Homo sapiens: one gene and its partners. The protein of the gene in region 4 interacts with the protein of the main gene of each other region in a biochemical or structural test. Each region holds a gene or a part of one and is shown on either strand. Other genes may lie near its edges. The genes, in order: FBXO7, MEF2C, CSRP3, MYOG, MEF2A and SP1.

The links.
Region 1: of the proteins of MYOG (region 4) and FBXO7, one has a biochemical effect on the other in vitro, tested with the Homo sapiens proteins (one large-scale study listed by BioGRID).
Region 2: the proteins of MYOG (region 4) and MEF2C form a complex in vitro, tested with the Homo sapiens proteins (one study listed by BioGRID).
Region 3: the proteins of MYOG (region 4) and CSRP3 form a complex in vitro, tested with the Homo sapiens proteins (2 studies listed by BioGRID and IntAct, with this or other methods).
Region 5: the proteins of MYOG (region 4) and MEF2A form a complex in vitro, tested with the Homo sapiens proteins (one study listed by BioGRID).
Region 6: the proteins of MYOG (region 4) and SP1 form a complex in vitro, tested with the Homo sapiens proteins (one study listed by BioGRID).

The regions. Positions count from the first base shown.
Region 1 is NC_000022.11:32,491,811-32,495,310, forward strand, and holds part of FBXO7 (F-box only protein 7), read left to right. Parts: intron 1-1,294; coding exon 1,295-1,471; intron 1,472-3,500. UniProt on the Homo sapiens protein: Substrate recognition component of a SCF (SKP1-CUL1-F-box protein) E3 ubiquitin-protein ligase complex which mediates the ubiquitination and subsequent proteasomal degradation of target proteins and plays a role in several biological processes such as cell cycle, cell proliferation, or maintenance of chromosome stability.
Region 2 is NC_000005.10:88,716,617-88,719,184, reverse strand, and holds the end of MEF2C (myocyte-specific enhancer factor 2C), read left to right. Parts: 3' UTR 1-2,068; downstream 2,069-2,568. UniProt on the Homo sapiens protein: Transcription activator which binds specifically to the MEF2 element present in the regulatory regions of many muscle-specific genes. Controls cardiac morphogenesis and myogenesis, and is also involved in vascular development.
Region 3 is NC_000011.10:19,184,984-19,188,483, reverse strand, and holds part of CSRP3 (cysteine and glycine-rich protein 3), read left to right. Parts: intron 1-179; coding exon 180-348; intron 349-2,135; coding exon 2,136-2,268; intron 2,269-3,438; coding exon 3,439-3,500. UniProt on the Homo sapiens protein: Positive regulator of myogenesis. Acts as a cofactor for myogenic bHLH transcription factors such as MYOD1, and probably MYOG and MYF6.
Region 4 is NC_000001.11:203,083,213-203,087,424, reverse strand, and holds the start of MYOG (myogenin), read left to right. Parts: upstream 1-1,412; 5' UTR 1,413-1,463; coding exon 1,464-1,934; intron 1,935-2,696; coding exon 2,697-2,778; intron 2,779-2,851; exon of another isoform or gene 2,852-3,053; intron 3,054-3,393; coding exon 3,394-3,515; 3' UTR 3,516-4,212. UniProt on the Homo sapiens protein: Acts as a transcriptional activator that promotes transcription of muscle-specific target genes and plays a role in muscle differentiation, cell cycle exit and muscle atrophy.
Region 5 is NC_000015.10:99,568,984-99,572,483, forward strand, and holds part of MEF2A (myocyte-specific enhancer factor 2A), read left to right. Parts: intron 1-3,500. UniProt on the Homo sapiens protein: Transcriptional activator which binds specifically to the MEF2 element, 5'-YTA[AT](4)TAR-3', found in numerous muscle-specific genes. Also involved in the activation of numerous growth factor- and stress-induced genes.
Region 6 is NC_000012.12:53,407,676-53,411,175, forward strand, and holds part of SP1 (transcription factor Sp1), read left to right. Parts: intron 1-1,686; coding exon 1,687-1,886; intron 1,887-3,251; coding exon 3,252-3,500. UniProt on the Homo sapiens protein: Transcription factor that can activate or repress transcription in response to physiological and pathological stimuli.

The DNA of each region.
Region 1 (3,500 bases), on a different chromosome or scaffold from region 4:
ACTCGAGATCCTTATATTAGCTTCTCATTTTTTTGCAGTTAAAAAAATTAAAATCTCAGTGTCTTACAGTGAAATTTACTTCTCACTCGTGTACATGTTGTGTGTGGGTTTGCTTTGGCTGAAGGAGTTGTCTTTATCCAGGACATGCTCCTCTTGTAGTAGAAGGAAAGGAGTGCCAGTGGCCCAATTATGTGTTGGTTCAACGCTTTTGCCCAGAAATTATATATGTCACTTCCACTCACGTTTTGTCAGAAAAAATAAGACAAAAATGGCCAAGCCTGATGGTGGTGGGATGGGGAAGTATAATTATGCGTAGGAAGTGATTGAGAACCATAATACAATCTACCACAATTCTCCAACTAGTAGGTAGTTTGACTTATATGAATAGATAGTGGCTTTTATTTGCTCTCTATATGTAGAGAAATAAGTAAAACGTTTTTGGTGTCAAGTTGAATGGTGGCATGTCTATTATTACAGTAGTCTTCTCTGTAGTTGGTGATAAGGGAAAGGGAGTAATGCCAATTGAAAAACATGTAGATATGTCTGTTGGATTTTGATTATTTTTGCTAGTGGAGAATAGTATCACAAATATTTTGAAGGTGCTAATAACCAAAACATAATTTTCATTGAACTTGGGACATATTATTTTTCCTTTCCTTTCTTGGCTTTGTTTCTGAATTTATCTATCTCTTTTTAGCCTGCTAGACTTCAGATAATAGTAATTTGCTAACACTTGAGTGCTTATGCTTGGTGTGCCAAACATTGTTCTAAGCACTTAATATGTGTTAATACATTTACTTCTCACAACTCATTGAAGTAGGTGGAATGTAATATTAATCCATTTTACAGATGAAATTAAGATAGCATTTAAATAACTTGTCCAAAGGCACACAGTTAATAACTGGCATGGAAACAGATATAAAAGCCAGTGAATTATTCATTTTCTGTAGTTGAATGAAGAAATTTTGTTGTATTGAATAATGTTTGAGACAGAAGAGACCATTGGCTAGTATTTAGCAATTATCATAGTTATTTGATTTATATTAAAAAGCATTTGTCTTTCCACTAAAACATAAAGGGAATAAGGGCCTAGAGTTATATGAGTTAATAGTAATTATAGTCAAGCTGGGGTTAAAAATTTGTTGTAGATGATGCATACTTGGGGATAATTAAGAGTACCATCTAATTTTCTGTCACTTTAGAAAGGAACAAGTGGCAACTTTGTTGACTATGTGGAGAAAGCCAGATGTTCTTTACTCAGTAATACCTGTTACTTCTCTTTTTTTCCTTTTAGCACTGAACCTACCAGATGTATTTGGGTTGGTCGTCCTCCCATTGGAACTGAAACTACGGATCTTCCGACTTCTGGATGTTCGTTCCGTCTTGTCTTTGTCTGCGGTTTGTCGTGACCTCTTTACTGCTTCAAATGACCCACTCCTGTGGAGGTTTTTATATCTGCGTGATTTTCGAGGTGATTTCCGTAATGACATATTCACAAGAAAGGGCTCTTATTGTCTTGATTACTCAGCTCACCAAAAGTTTTTAGTTGTAGGATTTTTCTGTTGCAAATGATTACAATAAATAGCCTTAAAGAGACTGACTCTAAGCTTCATATACCTGTGCCTGTGTCCCTAAAACTCTCTCATTTTTGTGTTTTGCACAACACAAATCACTCATTAGACTAAGAAGATTATTTCAGGATAGAGAAATGGAAGTAAAACAGGCTTATTTTCTCACTAGAGACCATAGTCAGTATCTGACGTAGAAACGAGCTGGCATTTCTGAACTGCTTTCATGGTTGAGACCAATGTGTAAGTTAGGAGAGTTTTGTTGACCTGTTCCAAGTTGCTAGGGTAGCTTTATTTCTGTATGGTCACATTATGGTGACCTGGTAATTATTTTGGCAGTGATGATGGTAGAACTTGTGCATCAGGATTTCCTGCTACAAGGCCAAAAGCCTGATTGTGGAACTTTTTTTTCTGCTACCACCATTTTACTACATATTAGTGTTTTCAGAATGTTTGACCCTGGGGTGGGTCATGAAATCCATTTAATGGGTCATGTTACAAAAAAACAAAACCCACAATGGAAAAATCCATATTTATTTTATAAATAGTATTCCTATTTATAAAATAGGAGTAAACTTCTATTTCAATTATGTATAGGTAGGTGTATACTGTGTTGCAATGTAAAATTTTTATGTGGTTCACATAAATGTTTGAATGATACTGCTATATGTGATGTTAACACATACCACCTTAGTAACTGTAAAAATGTGGTGGGTAGATAGCTCCCTTAAAAAAAAAAAAAAAAAAAAGAATATCATGTAGAGTCATTTGGATTGCTAAAATTTTTTTTTCTTTTAAAATTTCAAAATGTGAGAAGTGTAAATGACCTGGTTTGTTCCTTTTCTTCTTCTTTGATTCCTGAGGTCCTCTTTCTGCTTTATTTATGCCCCTGAATTTGACATTTAAAATGTTATTTTGTCACAATTGGCAGCAAGAAAGCATCATCTCAAAAAATAATTCAATTTTATTTATTTGTGTATTTTTGAGACAGGGTCTAGTTGTGTTGCCCTGGAGTGCAGTGGCGCAGTCATAGCTCACTGCCACCCCCAACTCCTGGGCTCAAGTGATCCTCCCTCCTCAGCCTCATAAGTAGCTGAGAACTGTAGGCATGCGCCCCCACACCTGGCCAATTTTTGTTTGTTTGTTTGTTTGTTTTTAGTGGAGACAAAGTCTTGCAGTGTTGCTCAGGCTGGTCTCCAACTCAAAAAAGAATTGAAAATATAGTAAAAAAAGAAAAGACAGAATGACTGATGTATATGGAAGCACCGAGAAAAAGCAGAGTATGATATAAATACTTATAAAAGCAACAAATACCCTTTCACTTGTATATTCAAGTTTAGGATTAAAGCACAATTATTCTTTAATTTTTAGATTGTGGCCCACAAGCTCATTTGTAAGCTGTTCAGATTTTTCTGTAGATAAAATGTTACGGAGCTAGAGCTTTTATAAATCTTACTTCCATGCTAATGTAGTAACTTGTAGAGAAGATATCATCTTTTATTCAAACTCTTTTGTATACTTAAAGTTGAATGGGTTTCTCTTTCCTCATTTCACATATTTCAAATAAATAAGTACATTAAAAAATACTTAGTTATGGTCATGCTTCTGATAGCCGAGTCATTCAGGACATCGTTGGGAGAAAGTAGTGTAACCAGAATATGGATGAAAGCCTAAGTCAGCTTGACCTCCAGTAATGAACGTGGGCTGTAACACAGAAGCTCAGAGGTTGTTGCCCAGTTTGGTGTAACGTGAGATGTTGGATTAGAAGCAGGTGACACACCTAAATGAGATTAGGGGGAGAAGAGGTAGTGTAGGACCAGTTAATGCAGGAAGAGAGTAGCCACATGTTCCTCCATAGTCCCTGAGGAATCACACTGCATTGAATTACCATGTAGCACAGAGCAGCAATGATCACCCTTAACCATCAATAAA
Region 2 (2,568 bases), on a different chromosome or scaffold from region 4:
AGAATGTCTGCCCTCACACACTTTTATGGATTTGTTTTTCTTACATACCCATCTTTTAACTTAGAGATAGCATTTTTTGCCCTCTTTATTTTGTTGTTTGTTTCTCCAGAGAGTAAACGCTTTGTAGTTCTTTCTTTAAAAAACATTTTTTTTAAAGAAGAAGAAGCCACTTGAACCCTCAATAAAGGCTGTTGCCTAAGCATGGCATACTTCATCTGTTCTCATTTGTGCCATCTGCCGTGATGTCGTCACTTTTATGGCGTTAATTTCCTGCCACTACAGATCTTTTGAAGATTGCTGGAATACTGGTGTCTGTTAGAATGCTTCAGACTACAGATGTAATTAAAGGCTTTTCTTAATATGTTTTAACCAAAGATGTGGAGCAATCCAAGCCACATATCTTCTACATCAAATTTTTCCATTTTGGTTATTTTCATAATCTGGTATTGCATTTTGCCTTCCCTGTTCATACCTCAAATTGATTCATACCTCAGTTTAATTCAGAGAGGTCAGTTAAGTGACGGATTCTGTTGTGGTTTGAATGCAGTACCAGTGTTCTCTTCGAGCAAAGTAGACCTGGGTCACTGTAGGCATAGGACTTGGATTGCTTCAGATGGTTTGCTGTATCATTTTTCTTCTTTTTCTTTTCCTGGGGACTTGTTTCCATTAAATGAGAGTAATTAAAATCGCTTGTAAATGAGGGCATACAAGCATTTGCAACAAATATTCAAATAGAGGCTCACAGCGGCATAAGCTGGACTTTGTCGCCACTAGATGACAAGATGTTATAACTAAGTTAAACCACATCTGTGTATCTCAAGGGACTTAATTCAGCTGTCTGTAGTGAATAAAAGTGGGAAATTTTCAAAAGTTTCTCCTGCTGGAAATAAGGTATAATTTGTATTTTGCAGACAATTCAGTAAAGTTACTGGCTTTCTTAGTGATGCAGTGTCCGTGGTGCATTTTTTTAAATTAATGTTTTGCTGTTTAAATTTATTCAATTTTATTGTGTTTTTTAAAAAGCAGCTTATGCCACAAGCACAAATGAGCTTTCTCAGTTTTCAACTCAAAATATTATATGAAAAGATGGATATGTGTGTCTGTGTGGGAGGGGTGTGAATTGGATGACGGTTCTTAGGGTATTACAGAATTCAGCCAGTGGTGGAAGTCTAAGGTTCTTATTGAATGGTTCAACTTCTTTATCAAAGAAGTTCCATGAAGATCTTTGATAACCTGTTTAAATGTACAGAATTTTTCAAAAGCCACTGTGAAAAGCAGTACCATAAGTTATTTTTTAACTAAAATCTGTAGAAAGTGTTTCCAAAAGAGTTCCTTTTTTCTTCTTCGAAGTAATTTCTAAAAGTTGAAAACATAGGCTTATAAATCTGAATAAATTAGTGAATTCATACATTTTAGAGACTATCAAATATATCCATTATTAACATTCAATAATAATCTCTAAAGGGGAATGTCCTTAAAAAGATTGATAGAAAGATTAATTTAAAAACTGAAAAGGAAAACAAGACACCACCAGTTAGCCAGCTGGAGAACTTGGACTTTTGCATTAGTAGTGATATCTGCTCCAAAAAGAATGCAGTTCGAGGAAATGTTGCATGTGGCTTCAAAATAGCAGTGCTTTCTGCTTTGTTCTCTTGTATTCATTTTCAGCAAACATGTATTAAGCAATTATTATATGTAACTCATGTGGTGATTCCAGGATGAATGAAGTTGTAGCCCTTTCTCTTAGGAAACTTATAAACTAATAGGAGATAAAAGGCATTCTCAGGGAAGTCTACAAAGTGCTATGAGGGAGCCACTTTGGCCATCCTGGGGCAGAGCAGACCAGAGGCTCAGAGCATGGACACTTCCTCATCCACCCAGCAGAAGCCTTTCACTTGATTTTGAAGGTGGGCAGGATTGAGAAAGGCCCAGAAGGGGATGAGTTCAAAGCTGTTTGTGGGCATGTGACCCCTGCAGTCACATATGGCCCTAGCTTGTGTTTCGTTTAGTGTTCTGCTATCATTATCCTGATAATATCCTGATAATAAAATTATCCTTAATAATTTTATATTTGAGTTTGAATGTTGTAAGCAAAGTCCTGTAGGACAATAGAGCATGTGCCTGAACAGAAGAGATACACAGGAAAAAGTGAACTGTTTTATATTTTAGTACCTTTAACAGAGAGAACCTTTTATTTCACTTTTTCAACAAGGACTTCCACATTTTCATTCTGCACTGGGCCCTGGAATCATGACACCATCCCTGGATGTGGGCATTTCACAGGGAAGAAATAGTAGATACAAAGGTACAGAGATGGGAAAGCAAGAGACAAACTTACAGGAATTGTGGGCCTTTCTATTTACGTAAAGTGTAGCCGTGTGTAGGGGAGCAGTGAGACAAGACTGGAAGAGTTAGTTTGCCTCTGATTATATAATCGCAAATTTAAAAGAGTTAGGTTTAAGCAAGTAATTGAAAGATTTAGGAGAGAGAAAATTGTCAGAATTCAGTAAATGGTTAGATTAATGGTAGGAGTGGTGATAGATAAGGAATTGTTAAAGTTTACAGTTT
Region 3 (3,500 bases), on a different chromosome or scaffold from region 4:
GATCGGGACTGTCTTGGAGTGCACAACTCAGGGCAGATACTCTGGTCAGGAATCAACATTGTATTCTTGGCTCAGGGGCCCCTCATGCTGGGTCTCTGGCCCCGAGCATGGCATTGGGAGTGCAAAGAAGGGGAGAAGGATTTCAATTCCAATCCCATGACCCTTCCTTTTCCTGGCAGTGGCCTGCAGGAAGGCTCTTGACAGCACGACAGTCGCGGCTCATGAGTCGGAGATCTACTGCAAGGTGTGCTATGGGCGCAGATATGGCCCCAAAGGGATCGGGTATGGACAAGGCGCTGGCTGTCTCAGCACAGACACGGGCGAGCATCTCGGCCTGCAGTTCCAACAGTGAGTTACTGCCCTGCTCCCCCTTGCCTGTTAAAGTCTCCAATTATCAGGACAGTTCATTTCGTTCCCATAGCAACGTTTTCTGGAAGTGGGAGAATGGACTCTATTGTTGACTTGCCAACAATAGGAATACTCAGTCTGACCAAGTTTGAACAATGTGTCATCTCTCCAAAGACTCTCTTTAAATTATTTGCCATTCTAAAGGGCAATTACTTTTACACCATGGCTCTTGGTTTGCATGTCAAGAGAAAACCCAGGATGTACAGATGTTCCATTGTTTGACCTTTGCAAAACTGCATGGAGTCTCCTTTCTTCCCCGTTGAGAGTTTCTGTGTAAATCACACAAATATGGCAGGGCAGCAATGGCCATTCTTTGTGTGCCTGTCATGAAAAGATTTCTTCCCTTGGATTGTAAGATGACAAACGTCCACATGGCAGGGGGAGTGTGTCTGCAAGGATGGGCTGTGCCTCAGAGTAAACAATCAATCATGATTTTTCTGGGGGTTCCCTGGCTGCCTGTTGCCAATACAGTGCTAGAGTTCCCGCCACATTATCCTAGGGAAGCTGGGACATCACTCTGGCCACCTCCATCCACCAGTCTGGTCCCCTGGGTCCACTTTCTTGATAACCACATTGACCTCCAGCCCAGAATTGAGGAAAGTCTGATGGCCACTGGCCTGACACTACTCTCTGGCCAGCTGGCCTCCAGGCTGAGCTCTGCACTGCGACTGGCCAGAAAGGCCCAGCCCAACCAAGGAAGTGTCCCATGGAGGGCCTCCCCCAGAGAGCACTTCAGCCATCTGAGGAATCAGCTGATCCCTTCAAAAGAGAGTAAGCCACAGGAGAGCATGGAAACGTGGAGAGATGTGTGATTAGTCATCTTAGAGAGAAGACTTCTTTTTGTTAGTTTGTCTTATTACTCAATCTCAAATGGAGACTCTTGTTAAGGAAGAAAACATACCACTGCATTCTCTGCCTCACATTGACTGAAGTTCACTTTTCAACATTAGGGCTTCCTAGTGATGCTGCACAAAGAGTAACAAGGTCTGAAGACCTAGGATTTCCTCCTAGGTCCATCATTCATGAGCTGCCTGGCCTTGGGCAGTCACACTCTGATCCTCACTCTCCTCCAACCAGCCCTGCCTACCTTATAGGGTTGTGGTACAGCTCAAGTGATATAATATACAAGCAAACACCAAAAGATACCAACACATGAGAGGCTATTATTATGTCTCTATTTTGGACATTGTTCTCCTGGGACAGGTGACCCTTGGAGGCAGGACGACAGCCTGGCTTGTGATAAGGAATGCATCAGCTCATGGACTGTGGTTCATCAGGAACTGATTAGCACCCATTGTCAAAATCCCACCTTGCTCTGTAATTTTCACAACTCTCTTTAGAAAGGAAAGAAGTGGCCTTGCAAATGGTCCAGAAAAACACAAATAAGCACAGTAGTAATAACAACACAACAACAACAATAACACAAGCTAACATAACTAGAACATTTGCTAAGTGCTTCACAACAAAAAGGAAAGCTCTAAACCCATTTTAGCAAACATTTATTAGCCCTTACTACATGCCAGGCGGGCACTGTTCTAAGTGCTTTACAAATGTCGCCTCATTTAACCCTCTCAACAACGCTATGAGAAAGACACCATCATTATCCCCATTTTCCAGATGAGGAGTCTGAGACACACGGAAGTGAGGTCACTTTCTCAAGGCCACACAGCTCTTCTACTCTTTGCCAAGGGAAATCTACGTTTCATTCATTCGTCTATTTCCAACAGGTCCCCAAAGCCGGCACGCTCAGTTACCACCAGCAACCCTTCCAAATTCACTGCGAAGTTTGGAGAGTCCGAGAAGTGCCCTCGATGTGGCAAGTCAGTCTATGCTGCTGAGAAGGTTATGGGAGGTGGCAAGGTAAGACCTTCTGTATGAGCCAGACAGAATTTGCTCATCTCCACCAGGCCATTTGGGAGGAATGAGAGAAAAATTGGGAGCTGCAAGCAGCTGTCATTCTCTCTAGCTCCCAGAACAACTTTAGAAACCACACATCCTCAGCCACTTTCCCAGGCTGGGGCTGTCTGTCATCTAGCATTGCCCTTTGAAAGCTGGAACTGGTGCAGTTTGAAGCAGCAAGCATTATTCTACTAGATGGAAGGCACCCAGCTGAAAGTTCTGGGATACAAAGCAAAAGCCCGTCTACCCTCCAGTGTCCACAATCCCCCCAAAAGATGTCAGCCCCAGACCAACCACTGCCTAACTCAACCTGTTGCTGCCACCATGACCAATGGATATAGCAGACGCCTCACAGTAGTGAGAAGCATCCTCACTTACGAACTTCCTGGCTCTCAGGAAAGTCATCAGATGTCCGAGACACTCATGCATATGTGCTCTGCAAGTTCCAGTTTCAGGCCCAAAGCCTGGGTACTCACCAAAGGAGTCAGACCTGAGGAAAGAGAAAAATTATGTTTATACCACATGGTGGGAGGAAGGGCCGTGGGGAGCATCTAACTTCAAACACAAGGGCAGGCTCCACCCTAAAACTGGCCATTTGAAGACATAGGAGAAGCCCTGGGCTGTACCTGGTAGACACGCAGATGTGCAGGAGGATGGAGATCTAGAACATCGAAATTATGCAACTCTGCCTCAGAATTACACAGAGGAATTAAACCAGAGAGTTAAAACAAGGTTGAATTCCCTGAACAATTGCCTGATTTCTTTATTTTTTTTCCTTCTGTAACTTTATACTCAACATAAACATCACCCAGTGCCCCCAGCCCAAGTCCTTCTCTGACCAGTTTGTTCCTTGGATCTTTTTGGCCTGGGGAAGCCCTTTCCCGTTTAGTCTATTCTGAAGGAAAACATATGCAAATCACCATGACAAATCCATTTTCAGGCTTCTGAGAAGTGCTGGCTAAGGCCATAGCATCTCATTTTCTCCAAACCCCTGGAGAAATTATGGGGCCCATTAGGTAAGCAAATGGTTAAGACGTGTCACTCCTCTGGATGCTGCTGGTCAGGGACTTGAAATGGAAACAGAATGTGTTGCCTACCTCATTAAATATGCAACTTTTCTGTGCCCCTCAGCCTTGGCACAAGACCTGTTTCCGCTGTGCCATCTGTGGGAAGAGTCTGGAGTCCACAAATGT
Region 4 (4,212 bases):
AGATTGCAGCCCAAAGCTACACGTCAATGGAACGGGCTGTCTCCTGACGTGAGCAGAAGCTGAACAGTAGCCGCCTCGGAGGAGATTTGGGCATCAGGGGCTAGGTAGAAAGAGGTGATCACCGTTGTCTATCAGATGGTAAGTTCGAGGGCAGGGATCCTGTCTGGGGTGTCCCTATAATCCCCAGCCCTAAGACTGAGCCTTGTTCACTGCTAGTGTCTAAGGTCTGCCCACTGCATTGGAAGGAATTTGTCCTCTCAGACCCTGAGGCACCTACTGAGAGGTGACCATGGCCTGAGAGGCCTGAAGATTAAATAGTCCCTGCTCTACCTGACATTTGAGACCTGCATGATACGTGTAAAATTGATGGCTCAGACAGTAAGAGGCAGAACAACCAAGCCCGGTGGCCAAGGAGAGAGGAGATTTAAACTGAGTTTGAAGGGCTCTGTTTTTTCTACTTTTTCACCCCCGTCCACATTAATGAGCCAGGAAAATTCTGGTGTTGGAAAAAGAGTTGAGGAGGTAACATAGAAGGACAGATCAATGGTCCGGAGTGAGACAGGGAGGAGACAGGGAGCTTAGGACATCTTGACCTTGCCGCTCTGGGGAAGGTGGCAACGTGTAGGCTGTAAATTCTAATCTCTGCTCTGACCACGGCTGCTGTATTAAAGAGGAAATTTCTCTTTACCCCTGCCAAGAAAACCAAAACCCAAATAATTTCTCTTGCCTCAATTTACCCCCCCAGATGAGACCTAAGAGAACATACAGCTCAAAGCTGCTTGGGAACCCCAAAAGTGGAATCTGTTAGCTGCTCTGAGTCTTGATCCTTCTTATCCCTGGATACTGAGTGCCCATGAATGCCCAGAATCTGAAGCAGTCCCATTCTTTCCGGAGGGAAGTCTTTAAAAGAGTCTCATCGACTGATGTAGTGTGGTTAAGGTGCTGTCAGGAAGCAAGGAGATGGATAAGTTGGCTCTTAAGGCCCCTTCCAGCCTAAGCCTACCCTTCCTTGTTCCCTCCTCCCCCTATACCCACCAGCTTCTTCGGGACTGCAAGGAGACAGCAGGCAGGCCGCCCAGCTAGGAGTAATTGAAAGGAGCAGATGAGAGGGGAATGTGTCCTCCCCCAACGCCCCTGCCCCACAGGGGCTGCTGAGAAATGAAAACTAATCAAATTACACCCGACGGCCTCCCGACCCGTGCACAGGAGCCCGCCTGGGCCAGGGGCAGGCTGGCAGGGTGGGGTGGGGGCCATGCGGGAGAAAGAAGGGGAATCACATCTAATCCACTGTAAACGCCTTGATGTGCAGCAACAGCTTAGAGGGGGCTCAGGTTTCTGTGGCGTTGGCTATATTTATCTCTGGTTCCATGCCAGCGGGGAGGGTTTAAATGGCACCCAGCAGTTGGCGTGAGGGGCTGCTGGAGCTTGGGGGCTGGTGGCAGGAACAAGCCTTTTCCGACCCCATGGAGCTGTATGAGACATCCCCCTACTTCTACCAGGAACCCCGCTTCTATGATGGGGAAAACTACCTGCCTGTCCACCTCCAGGGCTTCGAACCACCAGGCTACGAGCGGACGGAGCTCACCCTGAGCCCCGAGGCCCCAGGGCCCCTTGAGGACAAGGGGCTGGGGACCCCCGAGCACTGTCCAGGCCAGTGCCTGCCGTGGGCGTGTAAGGTGTGTAAGAGGAAGTCGGTGTCCGTGGACCGGCGGCGGGCGGCCACACTGAGGGAGAAGCGCAGGCTCAAGAAGGTGAATGAGGCCTTCGAGGCCCTGAAGAGAAGCACCCTGCTCAACCCCAACCAGCGGCTGCCCAAGGTGGAGATCCTGCGCAGTGCCATCCAGTACATCGAGCGCCTCCAGGCCCTGCTCAGCTCCCTCAACCAGGAGGAGCGTGACCTCCGCTACCGGGGCGGGGGCGGGCCCCAGCCAGGGGTAAGTGGCCATCCCATCCCCCTGCCCCAAGGGGACGGGGCCAGAGGGAGGCACCTGGACAGCCTCAAGACCCCAAGAGGGGCTCAGAGGGTTGGTGCAGGTGCCAGACAGGGTCGAGGGGCTGCAGGAGCCCTTCCCTGGTCAGAGCTGGGCTATCCAGCTGACCTCCTGTGTCCTGTGTTCTTTCCAGACAAGATAAAGGCAGTGGGGAGGAAGTGCAGAAGGGGTTGGGGTGGGGAACATAGGACTGAAGAAAGATCAGGAGCAAGGCCACAGTCAGCCCAGGTGAGGGTGAGGATTAATCCCAGCGCCTGAGTCAGAGCCTAAAAGGCCAGGCCAAGTTCACCAGAGAAGACTGCTTTGCCCCCATCCTGGGTGTGGCTGAGCAGAGAGAAAACCCACTCAGTCTCATTGGAACTCCAGCAGGCCTGCACAGAGCGACCTTCACTGGGCCACAAAATCTGTCTCCATCACCCTTATCGCCAGAGTCAGGAGAACCAGGGACCCCTTTAAGCTGGTGTCCTGTGAGAGCAGAACCACCACCCAGGATGGAAGCCAGGAAGGCCTGGAAGCAGGGCCTCTGGGGTGTGAGAGGAGCTAGTTACAAAGATTCTGGGGTTGGGGATGGCCTGGGCTGGAAGGCCACAGCCTGTGGCCCACCCTCCAACCCCACCACAGGTACTTCTGCCCACTGGGACTAGGCAGAGAGAGACATCAAAGAATGGCTGTGCCCCGACCTTGGGCCTTCGCCCTGTCTTGCAGGTGCCCAGCGAATGCAGCTCTCACAGCGCCTCCTGCAGTCCAGAGTGGGGCAGTGCACTGGAGTTCAGCGCCAACCCAGGGGGTAAGTAAGGCCTGACTGGTAACCTTGGCTCCAATCCCTCAGTCCCTCCCTGGGCCAGGTTCTCCCCTCTTACCTTATTCCTTGCTCCGGTCCTCTTCCCTTGGGTCTCTCTAGGGACCTGCTGACTCCAAGGCCCAAAGGGTGGGCTGGGAGGTTCTGTGTGCCCCTGCAGTCTTGACCAGCAAAGGAGTGATAGTAGCTCCTGCAGCTCCCCAGCTGATGCCTGGTGGTTGACCTTCTCCACAGAGAGGACAATGTCCCTGCCCCAGGGGTCCCTGTGAAGTGCTGAGTCAGTGCTGCAAAACTGGGCCGAGCAAAGGGCAGGTCCAGTCTCTGGGGAGCTCCATCCTGCTCCAACTTGAGTGGCTGCTTCCAAACCCTACCTACTAGGGGAGTTCAGAAAAGAGGCGCATACACACACACACACACACACACACACACACACACACACTCACAGAGCATGGGGAAAGGCAGGGACTAGGGAGTAGAACTCCGGAGCTTTGTCATTCATCTGTCCTGGAAAACCTCTGTCACCCCAAGGGTCCCATCCTCTATTCTGGGCCTCAAGAACCCCCACTGCTCACCCAGGTACCACCTTCCCACCTCCCCTTACAGATCATCTGCTCACGGCTGACCCTACAGATGCCCACAACCTGCACTCCCTCACCTCCATCGTGGACAGCATCACAGTGGAAGATGTGTCTGTGGCCTTCCCAGATGAAACCATGCCCAACTGAGATTGTCTTCCAAGCCGGGCATCCTTGCGAGCCCCCCAAGCTGGCCACAGATGCCACTACTTCTGTAGCAGGGGCCTCCTAAGCCAGGCTGCCCTGATGCTAGGAAGCCAGCTCTGGGGTGCCATAGGCCAGACTATCCCCTTCCTCATCCATGTAAGGTTAACCCACCCCCCAGCAAGGGACTGGACGCCCTCATTCAGCTGCCTCCTTAGAGGAGAGGGCATCCCCTTTCCAGGGAGGTAAAGCAGGGGACCAGAGCGCCCCCTCGTGTATGCCCCAGCTCAGGGGGCAAACTCAGGAGCTTCCTTTTTATCATAACGCGGCCTCTAATTCCACCCCCCAAGTGAAACGGTTTGAGAGACGCAGTGCCCTGACCTGGACAAGCTGTGCACGTCTCCTGTTCTGGTCTCTTCCCGATGCCAGTGGCTGGGCTGGGCCTGCCCTGAATTGAGAGAGAAGAAGGGGAGAGGAACAGCCCTCTGTTCCCAAGTCCCTGGGGGGCCAAACTTTTGCAGTGAATATTGGGAACCTTCCAGTGGTTTTATGTTTTGTTTTGTTTCGTGTGTTGTTTGTAAAGCTGCCATCCGACCAAGGTCTCCTGTGCTGAAGTTGCCGGGGACAGGCAGGGAAAAGGGGTTGGGGCCTCTTGGGGGTGATTTCTTTTGTTAACAAAGCATTGTGTGGTTTTGCCATTGTT
Region 5 (3,500 bases), on a different chromosome or scaffold from region 4:
GTGCCTTCTCTCCTAATGTTTAAATAATAAGTGTAAATATGGAAATCAGATCACCCTTTAAGCTGGATAACCTCGTGCAAGAGAATGCTTTTAACATATGCTGATTTGCAAGCCCCAGTAAAGGAAGGCTGCTTGACTCTGTAGTCAGATCTTGATTCAGATCCAGCTCCACTGCTGACAGAGTTGAGATATCTCCTGTAAAATGAGATAGAATTACACTACCTGCCCCGTGTTGGAATTAAATGAGATAGCGAGTGTAAAAGTTCTAACACACTGCGTGAAGCTTCATGTGCGAAAATGCGTATTGCCTGATCTCCCTGCATCCCTTCTGGCTTTTGTTTCTTCTTTCCTCTGAAGATTATGTAGGTACCCTGCCCAGTACCCATACGTTTAGTGTTTGTGACCAAAAGGATTTCGTATAATGTATCAATAGAGAATGCTTAATGTGTTTGTTTTGGATAAAATATCCCAGCATCTTAAATTCATTGTCAGATTATACATAAAACGCTTAATTGGCTGTTTTAAAACATTAGAATTTTGATCTTCAACCATAGTTTGTTTCTAATCTCCATAATCTCCCCAAATATTTTTCTAAAGATTCAAGTTAAATATAAATAGTTTCCCAATCTTCAGTGAATTCTGTCTTTTAGGGATTGACTGTGGGAGTGGTCTCTAAGATATAGTATTTGAAATTTAAAGTTAGAAGAATACTTCTGTAATCTACCTTGAATAGGTATTTTAAAATAGCTTAATTTCTGAAGAAAAGTTTTTAAATATTTTAATATTGAAGGTTATTTTAATATTTTAAAGTAACTTTAGTTAATCTGTAATTTTTAAAATACTTTGATTTGGTGTGAAATTAATGATTTTCTCGTGTATAGTTTATCTGTGTGCCTTATAATAAATGGACCTTGTGTCCAGTTTATTATAATTAAGAGTGTAAATCCATTTGTTAATTAGTAAATCTTACACATAGCACACGATATAGGTTGGTACTTATTTAATAAGTACTAAATTTTTATATAGATGCTTTATACTTTAATAATATTTATATTTACAGAATTTAATTGATATTTACTGAATTTAATATTTTAATTATTAATTATCTTAGTCGAGATGAAATCATAAGCATATGAGTTAAAAATATTAGCTCCTTTGTGAGGTGGAATACCATATTTAAACATTGGTGTATGAAGGCAGGTAATTTACTTCATCATTATTTTAACAAGTGATGTTGATAAAAGCCAGAGGAACAAACATGGGTGAAAAACATATTAATTAATCAAACTTCTAGTAAATACCAACCCGGGCATGTCTTTTTATGGTTGTCTTGAATTAATACTAATTTTACTTCCTTACACAAAAATACAAACTTCAAAAACAAAATAAACAAGAAAACATGAAAACATAAAAAGGAAACAAAGCAAAAACAAAACAAAAACCTTTAATATATGGACTTAAAAAAATTCTCACCATTATTAAAATTATATGCTTGAGAAAGGTTTTCAGTAGTGGTCAGTAAGTTTATACTGCATGAGCTGGACATTTTTACTTTGTTACTTGCGTGACCAGCAGCATGCATGTGCAGGTTGACGTGGATTCATTTGAGGCATGATTTGTGACACTTGGAACAAAGGGCTGCTTCCCATTCGACCTGGTAAAAGAAATTGTAACTTTTGGGCTTAATAAAACAAGCGGCTCTTGCATTGACTAATACTATATTTGCCTGTTTCACCTCTCGTCCTCATCCTTAGCTGTCCATCTTCTACATAGAAATTGGAATTATATTTCTAAAATTCAGATCTATATGTCATTTCTTCTTAAAGAAAAAAAAAAAAACAACTTTTGAAGGCGTATGAGATCAATAGAGTGGCAGTAATGTAAGGGATAGAAGATTGGCCTGTAAAATCAGACTTCCTGGCTGGGCGCGGTGGCTCATGCCTGTAATTCCAGAACTTTGGGAGGTGGAGGCGGGCAGATCACCTGAGGTCGGGAGTTTGAGACCAACCTGGCCAACGTGGTGAAACCCCGTTTCCACTAAAAATACAAAAATTAGCCGGGCATAGTGGCTCACACCTGTTATCCCGCCACTCTGGAGGCTTAGGCACGAGAATCGCTTGAACCCAGGAGGCAGAGGTTGCAGTGAGCCGAGATCGTGCCACTGCACTCCAGCCTGGGTGATAGAATGAGACTCCATCTCCAAAAAAAAAAAAACAACAACAACAACAACAGACTTCCCATCCTAAGTTAAAATACCCACTGTTCTTACTGTGTTCTTATTTAGTTACTTGCACTTTGTGTTCTTCAGCAAGTTCTTATGATTTTTGAGGCTTAGTGTATAAAATAGTAATTATAACATTATTTCATACAGTTTTTGAGAGGATTAAATGAGGTGTGTATTATAAAGTGCAGTGCCTGGTATATAACCTGCATTAATTTTCCTCCTACCATTACTATCGTTACTACTACTGCTATTGCTGTTAGTCATGGCTCACTTTATAATATGATTCCATCGTGTCTTTTGAGGCTCATTTTCAGCCATCACCTTTCAGTTTCTATGCCCTAGTCAAAGCCAGCTATTAGCGCTAATCTGAAAAGGCCATATGTTTTCATACTGATGACTACTACTTTTATTTTCCCAGCCCAGACTTCTCTTGAGTTTGATATTCACTTGGAAGTCTAGTTGGAATCTCAAGTATAATATAAATGATGTGGGTAAAATATAGCTATTTTTCCCTCTTCCCCCAACCTTCTTCCTACCCCTAAACCCTGGTGTCTCTGCTGGCATTCCCCATATCCATAAATGGCAGTACCCAAGCCAAAAACTTAAGATATTATTCTTGATTCTTTCCATTTCTCTTAAGTCCAATCCATCCCCACGTCCTGTTGCACCTTCACAATTTGCCTTGAGCAGTCCACTGCTCTTAGTCTTCGTTGCCACCTCTTTATTTGAAGCCATCATTCTCTTGCATGAAGTACTGCAGTAATTTTCTAAGTGGGCTGCTTCTTTTTCTTCTTGCTCCATAGAAGTTTTTTTTTTTTTTTTTTTCTTCACACAGCAGCCTGAGAATTATTTTAAGAGCCTATATTGGATCATATCATTTCTCTGCTTAAAATCTTCTGGTGACTTCCCATTCCTCTCAAAATCAAGTCCTCCATTCTGTGGCCTAAATGGCCCTGAATGAGCTTTCTCCTTCTCATCATTCTTCCCCTCATTCATCACATGTCAGCCACGAAGGCCTCTCAGTGTTTCTTAAACCCTCTGCACCCTTTTTTCTTCTAGGGCCTTTTGCACTTTCTGTACTCCCTCCTTGGGATATTCTTCAAATGTCTGGCTTGGCTAAACACTTTGGAGTTTGGCCCAAATCTCACTTCTCACTCAGAGGCCTAATCTGACCATCCTATTTAATATTGCAGTCTGTCATTTTACTCTCTTACACAGATTATTTCCTTCAAGACAATTGTAATTTGTGTATACCTGGTTTGTTTAGTTATTGCTT
Region 6 (3,500 bases), on a different chromosome or scaffold from region 4:
GCCCAGGCTGGAGTGCAGTGGCACAATCTTGGCTCACTGCAGGCTCCGCCCCCTGGGTTCACGCCATTCTCCTGCCTCAGCCTCCCTAGTAGCTGGGACTACAGGTGCCCGCCACCTCGCCCAGCTAATTTTTTGTATTTTTAGTAGAGACGGGGTTTCACCGTGTTAGCCAGGGTGGTCTCGATCTCCTGACCTTGTGATCCGCCTGCCTTGGCCTCCCAAAGTGCTGGGATTACAGGCATGAGCCATGGGGGCGCCCGGCCTTTTTTTTTTTTTAAGACAGATCTTCATCCGGGTACGGTGGCTCACGCCTGTAATCCCAGCACTTTGGGAGGCCAAGGCGGGCGGATCACCTGAGGTCAGGAGTACAAGACCAGCCTGGCCAACATGGTGAAACCCCATCTCTACTAAAAGTACAAAAATTAACCGGCGTGGTGTCAGGTGCCTGTAATCCCAGCTACTTGGGAGGTTGAGGTAGGAGAATTGCTCGAACTTGGGAGGTGGAGGTTGCAGTGAACCGAGATCGTGCCGTTACACTCTAGCCTGGGCGACAGAGTGAGACTCTGTCTCAAAAAAAAAAAAAAGAGCTTCGCTCTTGTTGCCCAGGCTGGAGTGCAACGGCACGATCTCGGCTCACTGCAACCTCCACCTCCCAGGTTCAAGCAATTCCTCTGCTTCAGCCTCCCAAGTAGCTGGGATTACAGGCATGTGCCACCACGCCTGGCTAATTTTGTATTTTTAGTAGAGATGGGGACCATGTTGATAAGACTGGTCTTGAACAATTTTTGTATTTTTTAGTACAGATGAGGTTTCGCCATGTTGGCCAGGCTGGTCTCGGATCCCTGACCTCAGGTGATCAATCCACCTGCCTCGGCCTCCAAAAGTGTTGGGATTACAGGCGTGAGCCATCACTCCCAGCCCCTAGAAACCTTTTTAAAAAAGAAGGCTTGGCCGGGTGCGGTGGCTCACGCCTGTAATCCCAGCACTTTGGGAGGCCGAGGTGGGTGGATCACAAGGTCAGGAGATCGAGACCATCCTGGCTAACATGGTGAAACCCCGTCTCTACTAAAAATACAAAAAATTAGCCGGGTGTGGTGGCGGGCACCCATAGTCCCAGCTACTCGGGAGGCTGAGGCAGGAGAATGGCGTGAACCCGGGAGGTGGAGGTTGCAGTGAGCCAAGATTGCGCTATTACACTCCAGCCTGGGCGACAGAGCGAGACTCCGTCTCAAAACAAACAAACGAACAAAAAAAAGAAGCCTTGGTCCAGTGCAGTGGCTCACGCCTGTAATCCCAGTACTTTGGGAGGCGGAGGTGGGCAGATCCATCACCTGAGCTCAGGGGTTCGAGACCAGCCTCGCCAACATTGCGAAACCTCATCTGCACTAAAAATATAAAAATTAGCTGGGCATGGTGGTGTGCACCTGTAATCCCAGCTACTCGGGAGGCTGAGGCAGGAGAATCGCTTGAACCTAGGAGGCGGAGGTTGCAGTGAGCCGTGATCATGCTACTGTACTCCAGCCTGGACGACAGAGTGAGACTCTCTCAAAAAAACAAAAAAGAAGACTTTTTCAAAAAATAAAAGTTTGGGTTAGTTTGGTGTCGATTGGGTGATTGCTGTTGATACTTTGTGGTTCTTTAGTTTTCTCTAGAATGAATGATTAACAGTTGTGTCCTCACTTTCAGGGGCTCGGGGGATCCTGGCAAAAAGAAACAGCATATTTGCCACATCCAAGGCTGTGGGAAAGTGTATGGCAAGACCTCTCACCTGCGGGCACACTTGCGCTGGCATACAGGCGAGAGGCCATTTATGTGTACCTGGTCATACTGTGGGAAACGCTTCACACGTTCGGATGAGCTACAGAGGCACAAACGTACACACACAGGTGAGCAAGAGCCTATGGGAGAGAAAAATAGTAATAGACTAGAATGAAAAACACAAAATATACCTACAAAATAACTAAAATTTCTGAGCAACTTAATTTGAAACTGAATATATGGGTCACAAATGGAATTGGAGTTAATCTGGAAAATTTTTAAGAAGGAAGGAGGGGCTGGGTGCAGTGGCTCACGCCTGTAATCCCAGCACTTTTGGAGGCCGAGGCGGGCAGATCACGAGGTCAGGAGATCGAGACCATTCTGGCTAACATGGTGAAACCCCGTCTCTACTAAATATACAAAAAAATTAGCCGGGCATGGTGGCAGGCGCCTGTAGTTGCAGCTACTCAGGAGGTGGAGGCAGGAGAGTGGCATGAACCTGGGAGGCGGAGCTTGCAATGAGCCAAGATCGTGCCACTGCACTCCAGCCTGGGCGACAGAGCGAGACACTGTCTCAAAAAAAAAGGAAGGAGCCAGGTGTCGTGGCTCATGCCTGTAATCCCAGCCCTTTGGGAGGCCGAGGTGGGTGGATTTCTTGAGGTCAGGAGTTCAAGACCAGCCTGGCCAACATGGGGAAACCCTGTCTCTACTAAAATTACAAAATAGTCAAGCGTGCTGGTGCACACCTGTAATCCCAGCTACTCAGGAGGCTGAGGCAGGAGAATTGCTTGAACCTTGGAGGCGGAGGTTACAGTGAGCTGAGATTGTGCCACTGCACTCCAGCCTAGGCGACAGAGCAAGACTCTGTCTCAAAAAAATAAAATAAAATAAAATAAGGAGCTAGATTTTGAGTGGGATTTTTGAAGGTGAAGCATTGAAACCATTACTCTTAGTCTCTGCCCTGCCTTACTTTTAAAACTGCTAAGTTCTACCTTCCTTACCGAGTACTCCCCAACCTTTATCTAGTTTTCTTCCTCACGCCCCCGCCAAAAGGAAAATATACTTGAAGTTTTTTGTTTTTTGTTTTTTTTTTGAGACAGAGTCTCTGTCGCCCAGGCTGGAGTGCAGTGGCGCGATCTCGGCTCACTGCAAGCTCCGCCTCCCGGGTCCACGCCATTCTCCTGCCTCAGCCTCTCCGAGTAGCTGGGACTACAGGCGCCCGCCACCACGCCCGGCTAATTTTTTGTATTTTTAGTAGAGACAGGGTTTCACCGTGGTCTTGATCTCCTGACCTCGTGATCTGCCCGCCTTGGCCTCCCAAAGTGCTGGGATTACAAGCGTGAGCCACCACGCCCAGCCACTTGAAGATTTTTCTTGTTTTTGATCACCTTCTCATACTGGCCTTACTCAGCTTAGTAGAGTAAGCACTGAATTGGGTAAGGTAACCTCACTTCCTAACATGTCAGCTTCTTATCTTTTCTTCCTTTACCTAGGTGAGAAGAAATTTGCCTGCCCTGAGTGTCCTAAGCGCTTCATGAGGAGTGACCACCTGTCAAAACATATCAAGACCCACCAGAATAAGAAGGGAGGCCCAGGTGTAGCTCTGAGTGTGGGCACTTTGCCCCTGGACAGTGGGGCAGGTTCAGAAGGCAGTGGCACTGCCACTCCTTCAGCCCTTATTACCACCAATATGGTAGCCATGGAGGCCATCTGTCCAGAGGGCATTGCCCGTCTTGCCAACA